2 separate regions of the Homo sapiens genome follow, and region 1 is linked to region 2. Evidence: fine-mapped expression QTL. A gene starts in region 2. The other region holds a variant in brackets. All regions are shown on one strand. Distances are from middle to middle.

Region 1 (2,500 bases), 52 kb before region 2:
AGCAAGCGGCTATTCATTTTGTTTGCTTTCCAAATGAATCTCATCGGGTGGCTGTTTTATTGGAGAATGCATTCTGCAAGGTGGATTGGGAGCTGGGGCAGGTCTCATTAAAATATCTCATGGTGTTGATTTGTGGAAGTTACTCAACATGGAGGTGGCACTGCTCAGACTGTACTGCAGTCTAGGGGTGTGATGGTACCGTAATTACAACACATCATATCCTTGTATGGGGGGAGTGGGAAGAGAAGGACCAGTGAAGGAGAAAAAAATCAAGGAAATGTCACCCACAAATGGTGGTTAAGGGCTGTGAATCAAAACATATACAAGGAGATGAAATGAGAGTATGGCTGATAGGGGGGTTCTCTGCTGATTGTGGAGGTTTCTGCTCAGTTCCTGAGGTAATGGCCCCTTTGCAGGCTTTCCTAGTCAGGAAAAGTGGGGTGAGTTAAGGATAGAGTGTCAGTCTGAACTTGGTACTCACTGCTTCTGTTGTGTATTGCAATCTTAATATTGCTTAAGCTTGTTTCACTTATTCCAGTTGTTGTTTGGCCTTGTCTGAAATCTATGCAATGAATGTAATGAAGGCAGCGTTAAACATCACTGTCTAACCCAGATAAAATTCTTGTAATAGAGTATAAGTAGCACAACACCTTTTCTCAAAACTAAACTAACACAAAGTTTTCAATACTAATAGAGTTCCATTTTCTGTTTAGTTTTTTAGTCCTTCCTTTTAACTAAAACTAAAGGAACTTTGATTTTAATAAATATTTAGATGAATAGGTATAATTTTTTGTGTTACCTCAAATTCAAAGGAATGTGTTTATGTCATGATTGTTGGAATTATGGGTACTGATTTCTATTTTCCAAATGAAATGTTCATTGTTTTAAAAGTACCCCCTCCCACACATACCCCTTTCAAATAACACTGCCATTCCTGGTGGCACTGTATGAGCTCTTAATTCCTTCTCAATGTACTGTTTGCACTTTGCT[G/A]TTGTGTATAGAGCTTTGGAGTAGAAGTAGAGAGGATAGAATTTGGACAATCTCAGGGCCTCTTAAAAGATCATGTAGGCTGGGCGCGGTGGCTCACGCCTGTAATCCCAGCACTTTGGGAGGCCTACGCAGGTGGACCACGAGGTCAAGAGATAGAGACCATCCTGGCCAACATGGTGAAACCCTGTCTCTACTAAAAATACAAAAATTACCCGGTGTGGTGGCGGGCGCCTGAAATACCAGCTACTCGGGAGGCTGAGGCAGGGAGGCGGAGGTTGCAGTGAGCCATTGCAATCCAGCCTGGGCAACAAGAGCAAAACTCCGTCTCAAAACAAAAACAAAAACAAACAAACAAAACATGTATACAATTAATTCTGGAAACTCCCGAACCAACTTGGAGCCACACAGGTAGCAGTAGCAGAGACCATGCCATTAAAAGGCATGTTACGGCCCTTCCCAGTGGAGAGGATCTCCCTACAGAAGAATGAACTACAAATTACCCCATGCCTCTTCCCATCTAGGTTAGCCCTTAAAATTTAACAGTATACCTTCTCTTCTCTATTTTGTTTAAGGAAAACTGTTCAGATTAATGTCTGCCTATTTAAAAAGTTGAGTTGATGTGGTCCATAGAAAGAGGCAGAAGACTATACTGATTCCTAAATGGGGCTAAGTATCTGTGTGTTTAATTTTTTATGTGTTAAGTCTGCATTTTGCTACTCTCTCTTTTAGCTCCTTGCTCGGATTGAACGTATGGAAAGGCGGATGCAGCTGGTAAAGAAGGATAACGAGAAAGAAAGGCACAAGCTGTTTCAGGGCTATGAAACTGAAGAGAGAGAGGAAACAGAGCTATCTGAGAAAATTAAACTGGAGTGCCAGCCGGAGCTTTCCGAGACATCCCAGACTCTGCCTCCCAAGCCCTTCTCATGTGGGCGGAGTGGAAAGGGACATAAAAGGTGTGCTGATAACTTTGTTTGATGAGGACCCTTGTTACCAGTGATTGAGAGTAGGAGATTGGGATTTATGAATTGGTTTTATAGCAATCATAACTTGCTTTAGAAGTCTTCTATGCGGAGGGCCGGGTGTGGTGGCTCACACCTGTAATCCCAGCACTTTGGGAGGCCAAGGCGGGTGGATCATGAGGTCAAGAGATAGAGACCATCCTGGCCAACATTTTGAAACCCCGTCTCTACTAAAAATATAAAAAATTAGCCGGGCGTGATGGCGGGCGCCTGTAGTCCCAGCTACTCGGGAGGCTGAGGCAGGAGAATCACTTGAACCCGGGAGGCGGAGGTTGCAGTGAGCCGGGATTGCTCCACTGCACTCCAGCCTGGCAACAGAGCGAGACTCCGTCAAAAAAAAAAAAAAAAGAAGTCTTCTATGCTGAGAAACTATCTTGAAACATTCTTATGCAGACTGTAAAAGTCTGTTTAGGAGTATTTTGGTCACAGTAATAATTATTGAATGCAGCTTACATCATAAAGAGAATGGGCAATAAGTATGACAGCTGAGT
Region 2 (3,015 bases):
GGTTTCACCATGTTGGTCAGGCTGGTCTTGAACTCATGACCTCAAGTGATCTGCCCGCCTTGGCTTCCCAAAGTGTTGAGATTACAGGCGTGAGCCACCAAGCCCAGCCAGCATCAGTATTTCTGAGAAGCTTCCCTGTGATTCCAGTGTGTAGTCAGGGTGAAAACCACTGCCACTCCAGGAGGACCATGACTTGATGCTGGCTCTCCTCACTGATTCAAAATGTTGAACTTAGTCTCTGCCTGACATCCTTGAGCATTTGGGGGAGTACTGGGGTCCTGTGTCCCAAGCTTCTAGCTTCCAGAAGTCTCTCAGTCTGTTTTATTTTCAACCCCCTACACCCTTCACACTCCCCAATTCGCCCTTCCTAACCAACAATTCCCAAATCCTGCCCAGAGAGAAGGTTACCAAGGCAACCGGCTTAATCTGGTAACTGTGGCATGTGCTGGGAGAGAAGCCCTTCCCTCTTCCTATTCAGTTCATAAAATGCTACCTGGGGAGCTCCAACCCATTCCAGCCACTTTCCCCTTTCAAGCCAGGGGATATTGGAGTGTCCAATAAGGGGAGCACAGGAAGCTGATACTCAGACCTCTAATACAGCTTCTTAGCCAAAATTGTGCGCTGTCTTCTTTTTACTGTTTCCAAATCCACAAACAGATGGGTGTGCAAAGCTTTATTTCTGTGAACACATGCTCTAGCACACATGGGAACAGATATGCACATACATTGATACGTATGTCATACACACCCTGTTCAGTTTTACTACCACTCCCAGCCATTAGCATTCCTGTCTCTGCCTGGTTGGTGCTCGGTAAACAGGGGTGGGGCATTGTCCAGAGAGCCTCAACCCATCGAGAACCTGCTGCCACTCCCACACCTTGTAAGTCTAACCTGGATGTTCTCACACTTAGCATGGCTTTACGATGCACCCCCCTCCTCCCCCACACTCCTTCTGGGGCAGCATATCCTTAAGGACAGAATGCTCCTGGTGTGGGCATCAGGAGTAAGGATTACTTGGAGTGCTAATTGGCACCACTTTTCCCACTCCATGGCCATGTACACTTGGGCTCTGTGCTTGATGATAGTCGGCAGTTCTGGGGCTTGTCACCTGTCTCCATGGCCCTGCTTCCTTCTGCTGCCAGCTGGGCTCAGGTGCCCTTGTGCTCCTGGTCTCCTCCCCACTGCCTATTATCCCCTCCTCACCCCAGCTAGACCTGCCACAACCTGCTGCTCCCTGCCTGGCTCCTACCTGCCTGCCAGTACCTGCCCACAGACCAGGCCCACACCACCTATTGTGCCCTACCAGAGAGGACAGATGGGCACCGCCTCCAGTGGCAATGCTAATTCACCCAAGAGGCCTTCCCAGCTCTTCTCACAGAAGGAAGATAAACTCCACATATTTCTGTGAGTATGAGAAAGGTGCACACTCTTGGGTTCAGCAATCTGTAGGCCTGACTTGGGTACACAGGTAGGTGAGTGAAGGTGTCCAGGCCACAGACCTGTCCTGACTCTTTGAAATGATGCTGAGACCCGGTTATCCCTTGAGCCAGGAATCCTTCCCCATTGGTAAATCTCTGACTTACCTTTGCCCTTAATTTCTTCTGCTTAGAACCCAAGTCCCTTACTGTTTCCCTCGCGGTCAACCCCAGCGCGCGAGTTCAAGCCTCGTGCGGCGCGGGGGCGAGCCGAGGAAGGGTAGGGGCGGGGACTGGGCGGGGACTGGAGGAGGGGGCGCGGTCTCGGTTCTGCCACCTTCCCCCTCTTCACGGCCAGGAGCGCAGCCGCCGCCGCCGCCGCCGCCGCGTCCTCTCAGCCTTGCGCTCCGCCCGCTGCCTCTGCCGCCGCAGCGCAGAGCCGGGCGCACCGGCCCCGCAGCCTGCCCACTCTTCGGGCCGCGTGCCGGCTGCAGCCGGCATGGGGGGTTGCTGAGAGCGAGCACTCCTTTCCTCTGGCACCTCCCCCGGCTACTGGCCACTGGACTCTGGCCAGCGAGGCTCGGCCCCTCTGGCCCCCAGTCTGGCGCCTGGCACGGCCCTCTACTCTGCTCCTCCAGCTCTGAGCATCGTGTCTTCGCCGCCCCCCCCGCCCGCGCCTGGGATACCTGGGTCCCCCGGCGACCCCTAGGAGAGGGGCGGGGGGGGGCATGAAGCCGCTGGAGAAATTTCTGAAGAAGCAGACGTCGCAGCTGGCGGGCCGAACGGTGGCGGGAGGTCCCGGCGGGGGTCTGGGGAGCTGCGGTGGGCCTGGAGGGGGTGGGGGACCCGGCGGGGGCGGCGGTCCAGCCGGGGGACAGCGGTCGTTGCAGCGGCGTCAGAGCGTGTCTCGCCTGCTGCTCCCCGCTTTCCTCCGGGAGCCCCCCGCCGAGCCGGGGCTGGAGCCGCCCCCTGAGGAGGAAGGAGGAGAGCCGGCGGGGGTCGCGGAGGAGCCGGGCAGCGGGGGGCCCTGCTGGCTGCAGCTGGAGGAGGTGCCGGGGCCCGGGCCTCTCGGGGGAGGGGGGCCCCTGCGCTCCCCTTCCTCCTACTCATCTGACGAGCTGTCCCCAGGCGAGCCCTTGACTTCGCCGCCCTGGGCCCCTCTGGGCGCCCCCGAGCGGCCCGAGCATCTTCTGAACCGGGTTCTGGAGCGGCTTGCTGGAGGGGCTACCAGGGACAGCGCCGCCTCAGGTAAGGAGCCGGTGGGCTCGAACACCCAGAGCAGGGGCTGGCCCCGGCTCCTCTTCCTTGCCCTTGGAGCGTAGGGGTGGCGCCGTGCCGGGGCTTGGTTATAGGGTTGAGTGGTCCGCGGAAGCCGGCTAGGGGCCTAGCGGAGGTACAGACCCTCCCGCGGAAGAGGAGAGCAGTACTCACCTTCCTCCCTACAGCAGCCTCACCCTCGTCTGGAGAAGCAGCTGAGCCTCTTACTCTCCTTCAGCCACCCTTCCTTTCCCCTGGGCATTGGAGCCACTGACTCCCATGGGTCCCTGATGTTGAATACCTCCTCCTGTGGCCCCAAATTAGGGCCTGACACATTAAAATG

The links. PIP is the estimated chance that this variant, and not a neighbour inherited with it, causes the effect.
Region 1: its variant is the best candidate, but not a certain one, in a credible set for the expression of RAPGEFL1 in whole blood (TOPMed, PIP 0.59).

The regions. Positions count from the first base shown.
Region 1 is chr17:40,124,464-40,126,963 of GRCh38, forward strand. MSL1 (MSL complex subunit 1) reads left to right here. Exons shown (of 9, transcript NM_001365919.1): 2 at 1,720-1,943. Among named protein-coding and RNA genes, the nearest start is that of MSL1, 3.7 kb to the left of the region's middle. The variant G/A (reference allele first, on the strand shown) is at 991.
Region 2 is chr17:40,175,719-40,178,733 of GRCh38, forward strand. It overlaps RAPGEFL1 (Rap guanine nucleotide exchange factor like 1), which reads left to right and starts at 1,752. Exons shown (of 15, transcript NM_016339.6): 1 at 1,752-2,663. The coding sequence starts at 2,144. RefSeq lists enhancers at 631-1,131, 1,132-1,632, 2,024-2,880, 2,881-3,015 and a silencer at 1,664-1,793.